Linked DNA regions of Homo sapiens. The protein of the gene in region 2 interacts with the protein of the main gene of each other region in a biochemical or structural test. Each region holds a gene or a part of one and is shown on either strand. Other genes may lie near its edges. The genes, in order: MON1A and RABGEF1.

The links.
Region 1: the proteins of RABGEF1 (region 2) and MON1A form a complex in vitro, tested with the Homo sapiens proteins (one study listed by BioGRID).

The regions. Positions count from the first base shown.
Region 1 is NC_000003.12:49,924,159-49,935,484, forward strand, and holds the start of MON1A (vacuolar fusion protein MON1 homolog A), read right to left. Parts: upstream 5,654-11,326; 5' UTR 5,451-5,653; intron 5,378-5,450; exon of another isoform or gene 5,211-5,377; intron 5,177-5,210; exon of another isoform or gene 5,124-5,176; intron 1-5,123. UniProt on the Homo sapiens protein: Plays an important role in membrane trafficking through the secretory apparatus. Not involved in endocytic trafficking to lysosomes.
Region 2 is NC_000007.14:66,770,232-66,781,133, reverse strand, and holds part of RABGEF1 (rab5 GDP/GTP exchange factor), read right to left. Parts: intron 10,812-10,902; exon of another isoform or gene 10,667-10,811; intron 9,252-10,666; coding exon of another isoform or gene 9,235-9,251; coding exon 9,056-9,234; intron 7,444-9,055; coding exon of another isoform or gene 7,307-7,443; intron 5,908-7,306; coding exon 5,741-5,907; intron 1-5,740. UniProt on the Homo sapiens protein: Rab effector protein acting as linker between gamma-adaptin, RAB4A or RAB5A. Involved in endocytic membrane fusion and membrane trafficking of recycling endosomes. Stimulates nucleotide exchange on RAB5A. Can act as a ubiquitin ligase.

The DNA.
Region 1 (11,326 bases), on a different chromosome or scaffold from region 2:
ACCATCAGCAAATCCTGTTAGCTCTATTTCAGAATACAGGCACATCCAGCAAAATGTCTCTAGTTAACATTTTCACCATAGAATGCCTTTTTGTTTTTAATATCCAGCTTGGTTGTCAGCCTTCAAGATGGTCTCTAGTAATCCTCAACTCCTGCTATGCGACTTTGCATACTCCCTTTCCACACTGAGCAGGGCTGACCTATGCAACCAATAGGACACTGTGTAAATAACAATGTGTGGCTGGGGACAGTGGCTTATGCCTGTAATCCCAGCACTTTGGGAGGCCAGGATGGGCTGATCACTTGAGGTCAGGAGTTTGAGACCAGCCTGGACAACATGGTGAAACCCCATCTCTACTAAAAATACAAAAATTACCTAGGTGTCATGACGGGCGCCTGTAATCCCAACTGCTTGGGAGGCTAAGGTATGAGAATCACTTGAACCCGGGGGGAGGCAGAGGTTGCAGTGAGCTGAGATCGCACTGCTGCACTCCAGCTTGGGTGCCAGAGCAGACCCTGTCTCAAAAAAAAATGAAAAAACAATGTGTGACTTCTGAGGCTAGGTCATAAAAGACATTGTGGCTTCTGCCTTGTTCTCTTGGATCATTCCCTCTAGGGAAAGCCATCAGCCATGTTGTAAGGACATGTAAGCAGCTCTATGGAGAGAACTTCATGGCAAGGGACTGAGACCTCCTGTGAACAGCCAGTACCAACTTGCTAGTCATGAGTGAGTCATCTCGGAAGCAGATCATCTAGGCCCAGTCAAACCTTCAGATGACTTCAACGTAATAAGAGACCCTGAGCTTGAGCCATCCAGCTAAGCCACTCCCAAATTCTTGACCCACAAGAACTGTATGAGATAATAAATATTGTTGTTTTAAGCTGCTAAGTTTTGGCATAATTTGTTACACAGCAATAGTTAACTAATATACCAAACTTATGTTGATTCAGCTTATGTTTATTTATTTATCTATTGAGACAGGGTCTCACTCTGCCACCCAGGCCGAAGTGCAATAGTGTGATCATGGTTCACTGTAGCCTCAACCTCCCAGGCCCAAGTGATCCTCCCACCTCAGCCTCCCAAGTAGCTGGGACCACAGGCATGTGCCACCATGCCTGGCTAATTTTTTAATTTTTTGTAGAGACAGGGTCTCCTTATGTTGCCCAAGCTGCTCTCAAACTCCTTGACTCAAGTGATCTGCCTGCCTCAGCCTCTCAAAGTACTGGGATTACAGGTGTGAGCCACCACACCTGGCCCAGTGTATGTTTATACAGAAAATATGTATATTTACATCATTAAAATCTTATCTATATTTTTAACAAAGTAATGTGCATTTAAAGCTTCAAATTATATTCCAAATAGAACTGATAGAAAATTACTGAGTGCCAGCCTGGCTGACATAGTGAGACCCTGTCTCTACAAAATAAAAAATCAGCTGGGTGGGGCAGCTCATGCCTGTAGTCCCACCTACTTAAGAGGCTGAGGTGGGAGGATCGCTTGAGTACAGGAGGTCAAGGCTGCAGTGAGCCGTGATTGTGCCACTGTACTCCAGCCTGGGCAACACAGCAAGACCCTGTCTCAATCAATCAATCAATGGAAAATATATTAAGTTGAAGATTTCACACAGAATGTCCAATTTTCATGAAACAGATTACTGATGTTAAGTGGGAAATGCCTATATCCAGAATCTGACCACTTGTCACCTCCACAGCTACCACTGTGGTCAAAGCCACCAGTGTCTCTCTAGGAGATTGTTGCAGTAATCTCCTATCTAGTCTCCCCTCTTTTGCCCTTGTCCCTGCATAATCTGTGCTTCTTACAGCAAAGTGATTCTCTTGATACAGAACTCAGGTCATGCAGTTCCTCTGCTCACAACTCTGTAATGGTCCCACCTTACTCAGTGAGAAAGCCAATTTCCTCACAGTGGTGCACAAGGCCCCACTCAACATAACTCCTTCCCCATTACTTCTTTGACCTCATCTCTTATCCTTTTTCCCCACTAACTGTGATTCAGCCCAGCCATAGTGGCCTCCTGGCTTTCCTTAAGCCTCCTGGGCACTCTTTAACTTTAGAACTTTGCCGTTGCTGAACTTTCCCCCTGCACCCCACTTCACCTACTCCATTGCCTGGGCTAGTTATCTATGTGACTCAGTCCCTCACTCCCTTCAGGTTGCTGCTCAAGCATTACCTTATCAATATCCCTGCTCCTTACCCCTCTTGCCCTGCTTTATTTCTCTGGATTGAAGGTTACCCTGTGACCTACCACAAATTTCAGTATGGCTTTAAGCCACATGCGGGAGGAGTTCTATTTTTTTTGAGACAGAATCTCACTCTGTCACCCAGGCTGGAGTGCAGTGATGCAATCACAGCTAACTGTAGCCCTGGCCTCTCAGGCTCAAATGATCCTTCCACCTCAGCCTCCTGAGTACCTGAGACTACAGGCACGTGCCACCACGCCTGGCTAATTTTTTAATTTTTATTTTTGTAGAGATGGGGTCTCAGTATGTTGTCCAGGCTGTTCTCAAACTCCTGAACTGAAGATCCTCCCTCCTAGGGCTCCCAAAGTGCTGGGATTACAGGTGTGAGCCACCACATCCAGCCAACAGACATCTTTGGGAGGGAGATTTTTTTTTTTTTTGAGATGGAGTCTCATTCTGTCGCCCAGGCTGGAGTGCAGTGGCATGATCTTGGCTCACTGCAACCTCTGCCTCCTGGGTTCAAGCAATTCTTGTGCCTCAGCCTCCCGAGTAGCTGGGATTACAGGTGTGTACCACCATGCCCATCCAATTTTTGTATTTTTAGTAGAGATGGGGTTTCATCATGTTGGCCAGGCTGGTCCCAAACTCCTGACCTCAGGTGATCCACCGGCCTCGGCCTCCCAAAGTGCTGGGATTACAGGCATGAGCCACCGCGCCCAGCTGAACTTGTGTTTTTATCCCTCAGGCAATTAAAAAAGAAAAATGGAAGGGAAAACTGAAAGATCTCTGAAGAATGCCCAGCTCTGTCACACCTGTGATGTGGCCTCTGGAAACCCCTGCCTGTGGGGAAGACTTATCACTGGTACTACTCAGGTGTTCAGGAACAATGGCTCCGAAGTTAGAGGGACCTGGATTAACCTGGCCTGGTCTCAGTTTTCTCATTTATAAAATGGGATAGTAGTATTGATTCCTTGGGTTGTGGGAAGATTAAATGAAATAATCCATGTAATTTGATTACATACTCAGTTGCTCCCATTAGCACATCCTGATTATTCTTACTTAGCATTCAGTCCATGTGTGACTGCACTTATAATACCACATGAATCCAGTGGTCTGTGCCATGTAAATCGGGCCTCTGAGATTTTGCTCAGCCTACAGTGGCATATGGGCAAATACGCTTCTGACCTTGCAAAGCCAGGTGGGCCCTAGCCTGAAGCGACTCACCTTCAGGCTAGGGCTATCATATAGACAGTTGGGAGTCAGGTCAAAGAGCTGTCTTATAGACAGCTGGGAGTTCCTCCAGGCTAACTGGTTGTTCACTGGCTCTGGAGTTGCAGGAATAGACAACGGGCTCTCTGCTGCTCTTGGAAGTATCTCCTAAATTAAACTCCTTAATTAGCCAGGTATGGTGGCAGGCGCCTATAATCCCAGCTACTCAGGAGGCTGAGGCAGGAGAATCACTTGAACCCAGGGGGCAGAGGTTGCAGTGAGCTGATATCGCGCCATTGCACTCCAGCCTGGGCAAAAGATTGAAACTCTGTCTCAAAAAAAAAAACAACAAAAAAAAACAAAAAACTCCTTGGTCTGCCACATGCCACTGCTCTGTGACGTTGCACTTTTGGTTCAAAGACCCAAACAAGGTCTACAATAGCTTACTTATTCTGTCCTCAGGGCCCACTCTCCACTGATCCCTTGTGGGCTTTAGCTGACTAAGCCCAGTGTGGCTGAGTGGTACCCAGCACGGTACCTGCATGGGGAAGGGTTGGCGGGGGCCAGATCAGCTGGCCAGAGCTAGTGGATGCTTCCTTCACAATAGTTCTCCTGCCACCTGAGATCATACAGTATCTCAGCATCTCCTAGGTCAGTCTGGGGTCCAGCCAGAGGCCTGATGAAGCAAACAGCTCTCTGAATACTTACTCTGGAAACTCAGACAGGGAGGCTGAGTGAATCACAGCAAAATCCACCCCAACCCCCATTGGAGCCACAACTGTGCAACTGAAGCTCCTGGGAGGCTAGAATTGAAGAAGTTAGGCAAAGGAGGTCTCTTAGAACCAGCCCCAGATGCCCCTTCTCAGGGAACCCTTCTCAGACAACCCCTCTAGAAGCCCCAGGCCTTGCTTTTCCTAGAAGTGCCCTGCTATGCCTGTGAGCAATGTCACCAAACAAGTTGGCTCAATCAGCCCTTGTAGTGTGCCTCTCTCACTCAGGCAGCCTTGGAGCAGAGAAGGCCTTCAGAAGCCCCTCCCTACTGACTCCCTACCACTCCTGCTCCCTCTTCTTGCTTGGATAGCACTTCATTTCACCTTAACCCTTTGGAGCGGCCTGTCTGGAAAGGAGGTGCCAGGATACAGGATGTGTGGCAGACAAGGCCCAGGTGAGGCTGTGCTATGGCTGCTTCAGCAGGATGCCTACTCCATGCTGAGATCACAGTCTGGTCCTTGTCACTTCTGGCGGTTACTTCCCTCCCTGACAAAGGGTGCTCACTCTCCCTCTGCAAACTTGTGCCCAGAAAGGGTGGCTCACCCAGTACAAGGGACAACCCAGTTGCACCAGGCAAACTGGTGCAAAGTCCGGCCAGGCGCAGTGGCTCATGCCTGTAATCCCAGCACTTTGGGAAGCTGAGGCAGGCAGATCACCTGAGGTCAGGAGTTCAAGACGAGCCTGGCCAACATGGTGAAACCCCGTCTCTACTAAAAAAATACAAAAATACAAAAAATTAGCTGGGCGTGGTGGCGCATGCCTGTAATCCCAGCTACTCGGGAGGCTGAGGCAGGAGAATCGCTTGAACCTGGGAGGCGGAGGTTGCAGAGAGCTGAGATCACACCACTGCACTCCAGACTGGGCAACAAGAGTGAAACTCCGTCTAAAAACAACAAAGCAAAGACCCAAGCCCCTTCCAGGTGCTGCCCCGCTCATCCCAGTTACCTCTGTTGCTTTTTGAGAAGACTCTACCGGCCGAATATGTGTACGTTTGTTGGCGGGGCGGGGGTGGGGGAGTGGGGAGAGTCCTACCTGGCCACTGCCCCCTACCGGATCTCGCCCTCCCAGCCAAAGGATGGGTTCCAGATCTCGCCTTTTGTATTCCCCAGCTGGGGACTAGCCGGCTGAGGGACCGCAGGGAGACACAGTCTTCCCATTGCAAACGATAGCGTTGATGGCTGGAGGCCCCCGTCTTCAAGCCCCTCCCTCCAAAGATGACAGCTCTCCAGTCTCTAGGTGCCTCCAGGCCACGTGGGCTGGCAGTCAACTCACCTGTTTCTCAGAGGAGTCCAGGACGCACAGAAGGTGCCGGTCACTGCCCTCTGCCGGACCCATGGAGGGGTAAGGGTGTCCGGCCGGGGCCGGCCTGAGGGCACAGCTTCGCGGGGCCCCGGCCCCCTGCGTACACAGACATGGCCACAGCGCAGGCACCGCTCCCTCCCACCGCCCTCACCCGGCCGCCGGTGCAGGAAGATAGCTTTCGCCGGCCTCTCGCGGCCAAGGCCCAGCTCCAGCCGCTCAGCCCGACTCGGCCCGCCCCCGGGGTGCATTGTGGGAAATGTAGTCCTTAGCGTTTGGCCGCCTGCGGCGCCGAGGGACTGGTTCTGGGCTCCTAGTCCCAGCAGAGCCGTGGGCAGGTCCTGACCCGGGTCCGCGATTGCCTCATCCGGCGCCGCCTTCTAGGGGCCTGGGCGCCTCCTCCGAGTCTAGAGTCCCACACAGAACAGCCCTGGACTCTGGGCCTCTCCGTCCGAGCCAGCTAGCAGTTCATTTCAAGTGAGAGAAAGGGACGTTAGGATTGTTTCTCCCACTGATTGTGGAAGGACAGTGCAAGTTTGGGGGACTGGATAAATGTCATTAGTGGGCCCAGCCACACAGGCTGTAAAGGATGTGGGCATGCGCAAAAGTCGCACTAATTGTTTCTAAAAACATATTTGTAGCCACGTTTTAATGTATCAGTATAATGCTCTAGAACGGTAGTTCTCAACTCTGACGGCACATAGAATAAGCCGGGAAGCTTTAAAAAAAAAAAAAAAGAACTAGGACGGGCGAGGCGGCTCACGCCTGTAATCCCAACACTTGGGAGACCGAGGTGGGCGGATCACTTGAGGTCAGGAGTTCCAGACCAGCCTGGCCAACATGGTGAAACCCCATCTCTACTAAAAATACAAAAACTAGCCAGGCTTGATGGCGTGTGCCTGTAGTCCCAGATACTCGGGAGGCTGAAGTGGGATTCCAGGAGGTCGAGGTTGCTGTGAGCCATGATCATGCCCTGCACTCCAGCCTGAGCACCAGAGCGAGACCCTGTCTCAAAAACAACAACAAAAAAACTAATGCCTGGACACCAGCCCTAGAGATTTTGATTTAATTGAATTTAGAGTAGGGTGGAGTGTTGGGGAGCCAGGCATCACTATTGTTTTAAAAGCTCCCCAGGTGATTTACCATTGCAAAGAATCATTGTTTGTAATTTCCTAGACGCAAAGCAATAAAAACAACAGGAAAACAGTCAACAACAGGCTCTCCCAAAAGACCCTTATTTTTAGAGATGGTTTTAAAAAGTAAAATTAGTGTTTGGCACCACTGCTCATGTTCTTTTCTGAAGCAATTAATTCACTTTACAGCCTTATGGTTAATTCTCCCAAAAGTTAATAGGATGAAAAAAAAAGTCAGATCACTCCTCTGACTTTCCCTGCTGCTCCACAAGCACCTGGGGGCAGTGTCCTTTTCCTCTCTAAGCCCTACACTGGAGTTAGGGTAGAGCTCCGCCCCTGGGCTTTTCTTCCAGTCTCAGATGGCTGCCACTTGTAGCCTGCTTCCACAACACTGGCCTGTGACTGACATGGTGACAAAGCTGTGGCCTTTCACTGAAGATGGCTTTGCATAAGGCTATCAAGTTCTTGCACATAGTCTAAGGGAAGCTTTCTCACCCCCATGTCCCCCACTTTTAGGTAAGGACATAAGAAAATGCCCTATTCCTTAACTGAGAGTCTCTCCAGGTCTCCACAGATCACTCAGTATTTTATCTCCTCATTAGCTCAGAAGTCCAAGTTCCCTCCCTTAGGGCAAGAATCATTTATACAGTTGTTTTCTCTAATTATTACACTATAAGAGTTTGAGCCATGAGCTGGGCTTGGTGGCACAGCCTTGTAATCCCAATTACTCCACAGGCTGAAGCAGGAAGAATTACTTGAGCCCAGGAGATCAAGTCTGAAGTGAGCCATGATCATGGACAACAAGAAGGAGAAAGTTAAGAAAGAAGGAAGGAAGGGAGGGAGGGAGGAAGGAAGGAAGGAAGGAGAGTTTAAGTCAAGATATAACATTCTCTGCTTGGTACAGAAATGTCCTGGCTATGTTCCTTTCCTTTTTCTTTTTCTTTTTTTATTTTTTTTTTAGAGATGGTGGTTTCACTATGCTATGTTGACAAGGCTGGTATCGAACTCTTGGCCTCAAGCAATTTTCCCATCTTGGCCTCCCAAAGTACTGTGATTACAGGCATAAGCCACCATGCCTGGCTAATATCCTGCCTATATTTCATTAACTTGAATTTACACCCTATAGAATTCATCTCCATAGAAGACAAATTAATTTAATTTACTTATTTTTTTTCAAATGAAGTCTCTATCATCCAGGCTAGAGTGCAGTGGTGCCATCTCAGCTCACTGCAACCTCTGCCTTCTGGGTTCAAGTAGTTCTCTGCCTCAGCCTCCCGAGTGGCTGGGATTACAGGTACCTACCACCACGCCCAGCTAATTTTTGTATTTTTAGTAGAGACAGGGTTTCACCATCTTGGCCAGGCTGGTCTTGAACTCCTGACCTCGTGATCCACCCGCCTCAGCCTCCCAAAGTGCTGGGATTACAGGCATGAGCCACCACACCCCGCCCAGAAGACAAATTTAAAGTTTTCTTTTTTTTTTTTTTTTTGAGACGGAGTCTCGCTCTGTTGCCCAGGCTGGAGTGCAGTGACGTGATCTCAGCTCACTGCAACCTCCGCCTCCCGCGTTCAAGCAATTTTCCTGCCTCAGCCTCCAGAGTAGCTGGGATTACAGGTGCGTACCACCACGCCCGGCAAATTTTTGTGATTTTTGTATTTTTAGTAGAGACATGTTTCACCATGTTGGTCAGACTGGTCTCGAACTCCTGACCTCGTGATTCATCCATCTCGGCCTCCCAAAGTGCTGGGATTACAGGTATGAGCCACTGCGCCCGGCCAGTTTTTTGTTTTGTTTTGTTTTTTTGAGATGAAGTCTTGCTCAGTCACCCAGTCTGGAGTGCAGTGGCACTATCTCGGCTCACTGCAACCTTAGCCTCCCACGTTCAAGCGATTCTCCTGCCTCAGCCTCCCAAGTAGCTGGGACTACAGGCATGCACCACCATGCCCAGCTAATTTTTTTATTTTTAGTAGAGATGGGGTTCCACCATGTTGGCCAGGATGGTCTCAATCTCTTGACCTTGTGATCCGCCCGCCTCGGCCTCCCAAAGTGCTGGGATTACAGGCGTGAGCCACTGCGTCCAGCCTAATTTTTGTATTTTTAGTAGAGACGGGGTTTCACCAATGTTGGCCAGGCTGATCTCGAACTCCTGACCTTGTGATCCGCATCCACCCACCTCGGCCTCCCAAAGTGCTGGGATTACAGGTGTGAGCCACTGCGCCTGACCAAATTTAAAGTTTTCTACCTAACTAGTTCTTGACAGTCTCCATGTTTAGCTCAGGATTTCTTCCAGAGTCTTACTATTCCTGTTAAGCACATCAGCTCCACCAGATAGTACTACTGTCATCTGGAAGTATTACATCTACTTAGCTAAGCAAGTGGCCATATATCTCATATATTTCTCGCTAAGACTTGTGCCTAAGACATTCTCGCAGAGCAAATCATGGTGGGTACTTACTAAAACATCTTAGGTTATTACTTAAAACTTTGTTTTAATCCACTTTTTTTTTTTTTTTTGAAACGGTGTTTCACTCTTGTTGCCCAGGCTGAAGTGCAATGGTGCGATCTCGGCTCACCACAACCTCCTTCTCCCGGGTTCAGGCGATTTTCCTGCCTTAGCCTCCCAAGTAGCTGAGATTACAGGCATGTGCCACCACACCCGGCTAATTTTGTATTTTTAGTAGAGATGGGGTTTCTCCATGTTGGTCAGGCTGGTCTCGAACTCCCGACCTCAGGCAATCCACCCACCTCGGCCTCCCAAAGTGCTGGGATTACAGGCATGAGCCCCCATGCCCGGCCTTGTTTGTTTTTTGAGTCAGGGTCTTAATCTGTCACCCAGGCTGTAGTGCAGTGGCTCACTGCAGCCTTGACCTCCTGGGCCTAAGTGATCCTCCCACTTCAGCCTCCCGAGTGGCTGGGACCACAAGTGTGTGCCACCACATTGGGCAAGTTTTAAATTTTTTGTAGAAATGGCGTCTCCTTATGTTGCCCAGGCTGGTCTGGAACTCCTGGGCTCAAGCAATCCTCCTACCTTGGCCTCCCAAAGTGTTGGGATTACAGGTGTGAGCCACTGTGCCTGGACTGTTTTTATTTTTATATTGAGACAGAGTCTCAATATGTTGCCCAGACTGGCCAGGAACTACTGGGCCCAAGCCATCCTCCCACATCAGCCTCCTGAGTAATTAAGACTACACACCCAGCAAGGATACACTTGAGTTATAACCTTGCAGCACCTCAGGTTCTGACATCTTCACTAAAGCTAGAAAAGAGAAGAAATATGGGGAAGAACAAGACGTCTAATTGTTACATTTCTTCCGCCTTCACTTTTCAGCTGTGGCAAGTTACTTAACCTTTCTGGGCTCTGGTTTCCTTAACTATAAAAGGGGAGGCAGGGAGTGGTGGTTCATGCCTATAATCCCAGAACTTTGGGAAGCCGAGGTGGGTGGATCACCTGAGGTCAGGAGTTCGGGACCAGCCTGGCCAAGATGCTGAAACCCCGTCTCTACTAAAACTACCAAAAAATTAGCTGAGCATGGTGGTGTGAGCCTGTAATCTCAGCTACTCAGGAGGCTGAGGCAGGAGAATCGTTTGAACCCTGGAGGTGGAGGCGGAGGCGGAGGCAGAGGTTGCGGTGAGCCGAGATCGCGCCACTGCACTTCAGCCTGGGTGAAAGAGCAAGACTGTCTTGGAAAAAAAAAAAAAAACTATAAAAGGGGATAATATTGGCCAGGCTAGTGGCTCATGCCTGTAATCCAGCACTTTGGGAGGCTGAGGCAGGTGGTCATGAGGTCAAGAGATCAAGACCATTCTGGCCAACATAGTGAAACCCTGTCTCTACTAAAAATACAAAAATTAGCTGGATGTGGTGGCATGTGCCTATTGTCCCAGCTACTCGGGAGGCTAAGATGGAAGAATCGCTTGAGCCGGGGAGGCGGAGGTCACAGTGAGCCGAGATTGTGCCACTGCACTCCAGCCTGGTGACAGAGCGAGACTCCATCTCAAAAAACAGGGGATAATGTCATATAGTTATTACGAGGATTAAATGAAATCATAGATGAAGTGCCAGCACCATGCCAGGCACGTGGTTTGATAAAGTGTAGCAATTATTATTACCCAAGGAGATTGGGCCTAAACCAATAATAATTAGTTCCTTAATATGGTATATACCTCTTAAGAGGATAAAGTATTATCTGATAAGTGAAAGATCCATCAGTAAAGGCCTAGGGCCTAGTTTGAGAAGCAAAGTCAAAATACCCATAATTCTTTTTTTTTTTTTTTTTTTTTTTTTTTAGACAGTCTCACTCTGTTGCGCAGGCTAGAGTGCAGTGGTGTGATCTTGGCTCACTGCATCCTCCACCTCCCAGGTTCAAGCGATTTTCCTGCCTCAGCCTCCTGAGTAGCTGGGATTACAGGTGCCTGCCACCATGCCCAGCTAATTTTTGCATTTTTATTAGAGATGAGGTTTCACCATGTTGGCTAGACTGGTCTCAAACTCCTGAACTCAGGTGATCCACCCACCTTGGCCTTCCCAAAGTGCTGGGATTACAGGCATGAGCCACCGCACCTGGCCAAAATACCCATAGTTCTGTTCCTCCTCTTCCCTGAAACCTGTTAGCACTGGTGTGGCCTAGGTGTTCAAGGCTTAAACTTTGCTTTCCCATCTCTGCTTACTCCTTTACTCCCTTGGTTATCTCATCCAGGCCTGTGGCTTTAGATATT
Region 2 (10,902 bases):
AAGAAGGCAAGAAAAGAAGAGAAAAGGAACTAAGACAAGTTGGGATAAATACAAACAGCAAGATGGCAGGGGTAAACCTTCCCTTATCAAAAATCACATTAAATATACGTGCTATAAACAGTCTGATAAAATGTCAGAGATTATCAGATTAGGTTAAAAAAACAAGACCCCACTTCATGCTGTCTGTAAGAAATTAACTTTAAATATAAAAATACAAATATGTTAAATACTAATGAAAGGAAAAGCATACTCTGAAACAATGAAAAAGAGCTTAAGTGGTTGTACCAATGTTAGACGAAGTAAACTTAAGAACATGGACCATATTACCAAGAACAAAAAAGGGGCATCTCATCATAAAAAAGAGGTTCATTCTTCGAGAAGTCACAGCAACCCTAAATATATATATACTAATAACACTGCTTCAAAACACATAAAACAAAATCTGACAGAACTGAAAGGAGAAACAAATTCACAGTATTTGGAGATTTCAATATTCCTCATTTAGTAATTGACAGAGAGGTGATTTTTAAAAAGTCAGTAAAGACAGAAGACTTGAACAATGCTATCAACCAACTTGACCTATCTGACTCTGATAGAACACTCAACCCAACAAAAACATAACACTCCATCTGACAAAATAATAATGTTAGTAACTTACATATAGATAATGCCTATTATGCACTAAGTACTTTTACAATGTTATTTTGTATAATCCTCACAAGTCTATCAGGTTGTACACTTACAATATTTACAAATGAGGAAGCTGAGGCTTGAATATGTTAAGTAACTTGAATAATGTTGCAGTCACTTACATAGTAAAGAATGGAATTTGAACCCAGGTCTGTGCGCTTAAATCCAAAGCCTGAGCTGTTGACTATTAACAACTGACTATGAGGTAGTACAACTACCTCAGTAAGCCAGAGGACTGAAGACTCTTCAGAAGAACACCAACTCCTCTGACTTTGGAGGTCTGTACACCAGTCAAAACACAGGAAAATCCTACTCATTTCCTTTATTGCTTTGCTTACAACATGCCTCCCTCCCACACATACTTTTCCAAAGACACACTTTTGCTTTAAAACAAAAAAAACCCTTTTAAAATGTAAATGAGGATTAACTCTACTAGCTAGTTATGATCATACAAGTTACTAAAATCAACACTTGGTTGTTTTTCTCCAAGCTTCCTAAAAATCAATCCCTACTAAGAGGCCAGAAGTTTGGATTAGAGAGGGGAAAGTGAGAGACAGCTCAGGTGTTCGGTATGCAGGGAGGAGGCGACTTATGTTTGAACAGCCAATAGGGATTCCGTGTGTAAGATGAAAGAAGTGAAGAAGTAGGAAATATGGAAAAGAACAACCTCATCCACGTTACAGTTCATAATTTTGGCTAGGGCTCAAACAGCAAGTGCTTGCTCCTAAACTTAAAAGTCACCTTGTGTTTTTGGTGTTTTTTTTTTTTTTTTTAATCAGGGTCTCGCTCTGTCACCCAGGCTGGAGTACGGTTGCATGATCACAGCACATTGCAGCCTCAACCTCCCAGGCACAAATGATCCTCCCATCTCAGCCTCCCAAGTAGTTGGGGCTACAGGCACTAGCCCAGCTAATTTTTTAATTTTTTTTTCTTTTTTTAAAGATGGGGGCCTCACATTGTTGCCCAGGCTGGAGTGCAATGGCACGATCTTGGCTCACTGCAATCTCCACCTCCCAGGTTCAAACAGTTCTCCTGCCTCAGCCTCCCAAGCAGCTGGGATTGCAGGCACGTGCCACCACCCCCAGCTAATTTTTGTATTTTTAGTAGAGACAGGGTTTCACCATGTTGGCCAGTCTGGTCTCGAACTCCCGACCTTAGGTGATCCACCTGCCTCGGCCTCCCAAAGTGCTGGGATCATAAGCGTGAGCCCCTGTGCCAGCCGTATTTCTCTATTTTACTAAATTAACACACGGATTATGATTTTTGTTCAATCAGTTATACTTCATTTATTGTCCTTATTTATAGATTTCTTCATTTTATTTTATTTATTTTTTAAGACGGAGTCTCACTTTGTTGCCCAGGCTGGAGTGGCACGATCTCAGCTCACTGCAACCTCCACTCCCCGGGTTCAAGCGATTCTCCTGACTCTGACTCCCAAGTAGCTGGGATTACAGGCGCACACTTCCACACCTGACTAATTTGGTATTCTTAGTAGAGACGGGGTTGTGCCACGTTGGTCAGGCTGGTCTCAAACTCCCAACCTTAGGTGATCTGCCTGCCTTGGTCTCCCAAAGTGCTGGGATTATAGGCCTGAGCCACCGTGCCTGGCCTTATTGTCCTTATTTATTTTGACATTCAAATTATCCCAGACTTGGCCAGTGGAAACCCCTCCAAGCTGGCTTCTGGATCTTCTGAAATGTCCCCAAAATATTGAAGGGGCCCTTTTTTCCCTACTCTAGCCCCAGAATCAGTCACTTCTCCAAGAAGCCCTGATTCACTTTAATGAATAATAGGTTTACTTTCTAAGGTCTGGGTGGTATTGGTATTTTAACTCTAAAAATGAAAAGATATGCTTTAGAGAATCACCGTCTTCAGATCCGTTCATGAAAGAGGTACACAAGATTCTACTTGGAATGACAACATTATAGGAGTTCTGAAAGAAAAGGGCACTTTGGAATGTATAAGCAAGTATCTCAGCTTGGTCAACCACTATGACTTCCTCTATACAGCTCACTCACCCTGACTGTAGAGACTAAAACACTTTAACTGAGTCTTTACAGTCAAGACATTCCATTTACTTTCTCTGAAGGCGTATCCAACTCTAAAAGAATGTGAAGATATTCTTCAAATTCCTTAGAAGGTTATTTGTATTTTGTCTGCTACCAAGCTGCTACGTATGGCATAAAAACTTTCCTTTATGCTACTAACAGAAGCAAGTAAAACACCAACAGCAAGGGTATCATGGACTAAGGAAGATTCAAGAATACAGAATCCAAAAAGTCTGTTTCTAGTCTAGACCTAATACATTAAAACGGCACTTAGGCTAATCTTATCCAAACACAATGGCCAAACAAAAGTAATCAGTGTGAAATGCAAAATTTACCTGGCTAAGTTATATTAAGTGATCTGTGAAACAAAGATACAATGGAATCTTCTTTTCTAACATGAATTTTTAAAATACTTTAAGGTCTTTATCCCCAAAGCTTTCTACAGACAAAAAGCAACTAAAGAACAAACAATCTAAAGTACAAATCTATCATTCAAAAAGATGGGGGATGAGGGGAGACAAGAACAAAGGTAAAAATCATTCTGCATACATATTTTTAAAACAAAATTCACCTGGATTCTTTATTAATTAATTAATTTTTTTAATGTTGGTGTCTCACTCTGCTGCCTAGGCTGGAGTGCAGTGGCACAATCAGAGCTCACTGCAGCCACTAACTCCTGGGCTCATGTAATCCTCCTACCTTAGTCTTCCAAGTAGCTGGGATTATAGGTAGGTAGAAGCCACTGCACCCAGCTCCAGAAATGTTTCTTTTTAAAGTACAGACTCTGCATTGAATTGTAAATTTTCTTTCAATAGTATAATGCACACTGTACAGAGGCTTTTGGGACACAGGTTTTTAAAACCACCAAGGAGAGTTAGCAAATATAAATGACAATTATGTACTTAAGTAACAGAAACTTAATTTCATATATATATATTATTTATGATATATATTAAATAACCTGGGCTTCTGAAGTATACACATTGGATAAAGGAATATAATGGAAAAATATTGACCCAGGAATTAGGAGACATGAGTTCTCATGCACAAACTCATTGTGCAACCTTGGGTAAATTAGTTAACCTTTATGGACTTTCACACTGTCCTCTGCAAAATGAGGCTATTGGAGCTGATAATTTTATACTTGTTTTACTATTTCATCTGTTATCATAAATACTTATCATTTCACTACATATCATCAAGAAACAGACCTTAAGCTAAATAGGAATGAGTATTCTTCATAGCAAATGCCCTTGTGCTCCCTGCAAGATAATTCTATCAGAAGAATAACTTGCATTTTAAAACAGCTAACACTTACTGGAGATCTACTGTGTGTGTCAGGCACTGTGCTAAGCTCTTTACATGCATTAACTCACTGAATCCTCATCACGTGCCTCTGGTAGGTATTATTGTCCCTCAGTGTGGACAGGACTCGGAGAGGTTAGTCTGTCCAAGGTCACAAAGCTGGTAAATACAAAGCTAGGGCTCAAACCAGGAGTGACTCCAAAGTCACCTTACTACCTGGCTATTCCACCTCCTAATAAATAAATCATGAGCCCAATACATTCTTATTTAATCTCTGGCAGGTACTAATTTTTCCCCCCTTTTTCGTAGAGATAAAATTGCTACAACTGGCAGCCAACCAAGAAACAACTTCAAATTAATCATGTAATCAATCTTTTTTCTTTTCTTTCCTTTTTTTAGACAGGGTCTTGCTCTGTCACCCAGGCTGGAGTGCAATGGCACGATTTCGGCTCACTGCAACCTCCTCCTCCTAGATTCAAATGATTCTCCTGCCTCAGCCTTCTGGCCTCAGCTGGAACTACAGGCACATGCCACTGTGCCTGGATGATTTTTCTATTTTTTGTAGAGGCGGGGTTTCACCATGTTGCCCAGACTGGTCTCAAACTCCTGAGCTCAGGTAATCCATCTGTCTTGGCCTCCCAAAGCGCTGAGATTACAGGCTTGAGCTACCGCACCAGGTCTGGTATCCATGTCTTAAAGAGAGGTGTGTTTTTGGTTATGAGCAATATTTCCTTTTAATAAAACAAAAGGAAACAGCAAAAGTCACAAAACCTAGAAGACCAGCAAGTATCTTAAGAAGTAACACTGTCTTATTATTCATTCCCCGGCCTTCAGGGGAGACCTCATTACAATTACCCCAGGGTAGGAACTGGGGAGCAAGTGAGGGGGCTCCCAGAGAACAGGTCTTCTGACAGCATCAGTGTTGGTTCCCAGTCTCCCTCATTATTTCGCTTTGACTGCATAACTCTGAGTACCAACATAAATTTTCAAAGACAGACTGAGGCCTAACAACAAAGAGTCTTTCTTGCTTCATGTTGGGCCACTTCAACTAGCTAGTCTGCTCAATGGTAGAACAACTGTGACTTAAGTGACAATCCTCTTGCTGGTTATATGGCATTTTAAAAAGCAGGGTGAATATGATCACCTACATACAAATCCATGCACTGGAAAATAGCTACTATGGCTCACTTTCATCCCCCCAAGAGCCCAACTTGGGCCTTTTCCTATATGTTCTCAATACACTTCCTCAAGACACAAGCTGTCTCTCAAATAAGCTCTCAGGCAGAAAATCTCTCTCTCAGATGACTATCAAGCCTAGAAATCACCATTTCTGACAAGCTATGAACAGTGAGGGTATTATACCACAGAACAAACCAGGATCCACAAATAAAGGCACAAAAACCAAAACATCCAAAGAGATAGTCATTTGGATGGGGATGAATTTCATAAGCAAAAGTACCTATTTCAATTCTCTTGATTCCTCCTATAAACAAATTTCTCTAAAACACAATGTCTTTCAACCAAAGAGAGTATTGATTTCATATACTGTCTGACCCTCAAGCCCAATTTCAGTGTCAAATCTGAGCTGATGTTCTCAAAAAGTTGACAGAAATTACAAAGCTGAGCTTATGAGCATTGGGGATCTCCTCTGTGTCTCACTCAGGCAGAGAAGAAAAAAAAGAGTATCAGAACATTACCCTTCTTTGATCCGACCCTGGAAGATGCACTGAAGAATTTCTTCACTGTGGTAACCTTGCGGGTCTTCTCGTTGGTTTTCTTTTCTTCAAACTTGGAGAATGTGAGGGATTGGGCCCCTTGGCTGCTCTGACTGCTGGCAAAGGCCTCTTCTTCCTCCCGCTGGAGTCTGCAATTCAAGAGAGGATTAGAATGACCTAGATATTCTCCAAGGTTTCTCTGTATGTGAAGGTTATTACTCCATTAATTCAGGAGGATCTAAAGATTTTAGACCTAGAGACTAAATATGCCAAATCAGTCTGAGGTCTCACATTGCTACAGGATGGACGGCTCTTCATGCACTACAGATTTCAAATGGGGTCTTCTCATACTCATTCAGCTACTGCTCTAGGGTTACATGAAAGAAATCAAGTCTAATCCTTTTCCCTAACAAGCTCAAGGCTGGAACAGACAAAAAGGTAAGTAAACAACTGCTACAGAATGGGACAGCTGCTACATCAGAGAGTAAAAGTTGAGTGCTGTGAGAACACAGGAAAGAACAACTCAATCTGCTGGGGGAGTCTGACGAGGCTTTACAACGGTGATGTTTGGGTGAGGTCTTAAAGGATAAATAGGATCCTTTTTTTGGTTGTTTTTGAGACAGAGTGTCACTCCATCGCCCAGGCTGGAGTGTAATAGCATGGTATCAGCTCACTACAACCTCTGCCTCCCGAGTTCAAGCAATTCTCATCCCTCAGCCTCCCAAGTTATTGGGACTACAGGCGCACACCACCACACCTGACTAATAAGGCTGAATAGGATTCTAAGTGAAAGGACATTCCAGAAAGAAGGAACTACAAATGTGCAAGCCTGTGGTTTGCTTCACAACAAGCTGAATGTAGCCAGAGCACTGGGCGTGTGATGAACTGTGATGCTGGATATACAGGAAGGCTCCAGAGGGTAGGGAATCTTGATTGCTGAGCCCACTATTCTGGATTTCATCATGTGGTAGGGAAGCAAGAAAGACTGTAAATCCAAGGAGTTATCGCTGTCAGATCTGTACTTTAGAAAGATCATGCAGGTAGCTGTGTGAACAACTTGAAGGGTAGAGAAACTAGAGACAGGAACAAGAAGTAAGAGTATATTATAAAGGTTTAAGTAAAAGAAAATAAGCACCTGGAAAATAGGAGTACAAAAGGTAAAATTCAAAAGACTTTTCTGAGTTGGAAGAAATAGAACTTGGTCAAGTTGTAGCTAGCATGGGAGATAAAAGAGAAATCAAGAATGAAACCAAGGTTTTTTAGCTAACTTGGTAAGTAGTGATGCCATTAATTGACTCAGGAGAAGGGTTAGGAGGAAAATGTTCAGAATGCGGAGAATAATAAATAAAAGCAATAAATTTGGCTTTGGATTAGCTGCATGTGAACCACCTGTATTAATTCCCAAACACAGGCCAGGTGCAGTGGCTCACGCCTGTAATCCCAGCACACTGGGAGGCCAAGGCGGCCGGATCACTTGAGCTCAGGAATTTGAGACCAGCCTGGGCAACATGGTGAAACCCTGTCTCTACATAAAATACAAAACTTAGCTGGGCATGGTGGCATACTTCTGTAGTCCTAGCTACTTGGGAGGCTGAAGCAGGAGGATCACTTGAGCCCAGGAAGCAGAGGTTGCAGTAAGTTGAAATTGCACCATTGCACTCCAGCCAGGGTAACAGAGCAAGACCCTGTCTCAAAAACAAACAAACAAACAAAAAGCACAAGCACTATCTAAAAGACAATGATTTTCCAAGTATGATTCCCCAGACAGCAGCGCAGCATCACCAGGCAACTTGTCAGAAATGCAAATTCTCTAGTCTTACTCCCAAGCCACTAAAATCAGAGACTCTGTGGGTAAGGTCCAGCAATCACTGCTTTTACAAGCTTTCCGAGAGATTTAGCAGGGTCACAATTAAAAGCAGTAAGAAATAGAAACAAAAATCACAGGTGGAGGTGCTAAGTCTGAGGGTGGAATCGGGACCCCTCTTTCTCTGGGACAGACAAGAAGTTAATATAAAGGTACTAGGACATTTTTATGTGGTGAGGGGAGGAAGCTGAGGGAGTTTGTGCCTAGTGGCCTCTACTCTGTTTTTGAAACAGGATCTGCTACTGACAGCATCAGGCATGCAGTGGAAACCCTGAGGAGATCATTCATGTTCTCGGCTAAAATTTTCTCTCTTTGATTGAACACAGTCACTGAAAGCAATGTGTAATTTCTAATTCTCTGAGTTCACTACAAATGACAGCAAAGGAGTCACTCAACAAATATTGGCTGACTGGATGAAAAAAAAAAAACAAACAACTAGCTAGAGGAGTTGGCAGAATTCCATTTGACTTTCTTCTGTTGAAGCAGTTTTAGAATTCTAGAATGCTCTGGCAAAGAATTAACATTATTCATGGCATTTTATTAGTTCCTATGCTCACTAGCCATCCCATCATTTATTTATTTATTTATTTATTTTTTTTTGAGACAGAGTCTCACTCTGTCTCCCAAGCTGGAGTGCAGTGGCATGATCTCAGCTCACTGCAACCTCCGATACCTGGGTTCAAGCAATTCTCCTGCCTCAGTCTCCCAAGTAGCTGGGATAACAAATGCGTACCACCATGCCCGGCTAACTTTTTTAATATTTTTAGTAGAGAGGGGGTTTCACCATGTTGGTCAGGCTGGTCTCGAACTCCTGACCTCAGATGATCCTCCTGCCTCACCCTCCCAAAGTGCTAGGATTACAGGCGTGAGCCACTGCGCCCGGCCCATCGTTTAATTTTTAACATCATTATATTTCCGGATAATACCAAATGCTAACCTAATTTTTAAATATAAGTTAAATTTCTACAATGCAATGACTATGTATACAAGTCAACAGATTTCTACTACTGTGTTTTATCACTGAGCTAGATGCCATGCTAAATATATATTAAAAGAATGAGGGAAATAATGCTTGATGAGTGCCATTTCCAAGCCCTGCAGTGGGTACGTCAAATTTATTAGCTCATTTAATCTTCACCAGGAAATATGCCTATCTCCATTCTTCCACTCCAAGGAGCTTATTGTCTACATTTGAGAACTAAAACTAACACAACCCAAAGAAAATAATCAGAAGACAAACACAAAATGAAGAAACTACTGAAAGCTGTTCATTAAAAGCTGACTGAGAAGAAGAGAGGAAAACATCCTTTTCCTTAATATTAAACTGACTTGCTGATAGCTCAAAGCAGAAGTGAAAAAATGTATTTAGACGGTGACAGAACTATGTATCCAGTCACGTCACTGTTCAACCGCCCCTAGTTAAGTCCTTTTACCGCTCCGCCAGCTCCCAGTCCTCCTGAATCTGCTTCTGCCTGGCTTTGTGGTACTCTTCCCTCCAGCACTTGGAGCAGAAACCCTGCCAGGCAGGGTTGCCGTAGTAACCACATCCTTTCTTGCACAGGAGATCCGATTGATCCACATGAATTCCTCGGCGTTCAGACTTAAGGCTCATCTTCTTCCTGCTAACCACTGAACAAACAAGAAAGTGCTGTTGAAAATGAATTATCATTCTACTAAATAAAATCTTACCAATTATGAACAAAAAGTGAGTGATTCCATTATCTTCAAGCTGTTAAGAGAGGGATGGAGGGAATGAAGGAGGGAGGGAGAAAGAGGAGGAAGGAAGAAAAAAGAATGTTAAATATAGTAAATTCCTGACACAGCCATATTAAAGAAAGACTTATTCCCTGCCCAAAATAAAAAATAAAAAATAAAAAATTAAGAAAGGACTCACATTAGATTAAAGACCTAAATGTAAAGGCTGCAAACTAGAAAACTCCTAGAAAAAAAACTTAGGGGAAAAGCTTCCCGACACTGGATTTTGCAATGACTTCTAGGATATGACACCAAAAGCACAGGCAACAAAAGCAAAATCAGACAAATACATTATATCAAACTTTAAAATGTCTGCACAGGCCGGTGTGGTGGCTCACACCTGTAATCCCAGCCCTTTGGGAGGCTGAGGAGGGCGGATAACAAAATCAGGAGATTGAGAGTATCCTGGCTAACACGGTGAAACCCTGTCTCTACTAAAAATACAAAAAAATTAGCCAGGCGTGGTGGCGGGCGCCTGTAGTCCCAGCTATTCAGGAGGCTGAGGCAGGAGAATCACGTGAACCTGGGAGGCAGAGCCTGCAGTGAGCCAAGATCACGCCACTGCACTCCAGGCTGGGTGACAGAGCAAGACTCTGTCTCAAAAGAAATAAAAAATTTTTAAAAATTAAATATCTGCAAAACACAGGAACCAACTGACAGGGTAAAAAGGAACAACACACAGAATGGGAGAACTTATCTGCAAACCATATATCTAATAAGGGGTTAATATCTAAAATACGAAGGAACTCCTACAACTCAATAACAACAACAACAACAACAACAACAAACCCAAATAATCCGATTAACAAATGGGAAAAGGACTTCAATAAACAATTCTCCAAAGACATACCAACAGCCAACAAATGTGAAAAATGCTCAACATCACTAATCATCAGGGAAATGCAAATCAAAATCACAATGAGATATCACTTTACACCCATTAGGATGGCTACTGTAAAAAAAAACAAACCCAGGCTGGGCATAATGGCTCATGCCTGTAATCCCAGCACTTTGGGAGGCCAAGGTGGGAGGATCACTTGAGGCTAGGAGTTCAGGACCAGCCTGGGCAACACAGCAAGATCCCATCTCTACAAAAAACACAACAACTAGCTGGGAGTGATGGTGTATGCCTGTAGTCCCAGCTAATCGGGAGGCTGAGACAGAAGGATTGCCTGAGCCCAGGAGTTGGAGGCTGCAGTGAGGTATGATCACACCACTGCACTCCAGCCTGGGTGACAGAGCGAGGCCTTGTCTAGAGAGAAGAGAAGAGAAAAAAATTGAAATAATACCTTAAGTTCCAAAGTCAGTTTTCTTTTCTACTGTATAATATTTAAACTCATTTGTTCAGTCTCACAGCTGTATGGTAAATCGCTATGCAACAATTTCCGTTCAAACTGAAACCACATGGTCTTCATTCTTCTCCATATAAACAAACTGCCAAACAAGCACAGAAAAAAAGCAGCACTCCACACCATTCATTCAAGAAGACTCACATGTGCAGATAAAATTAAGCCCTATATCTTGG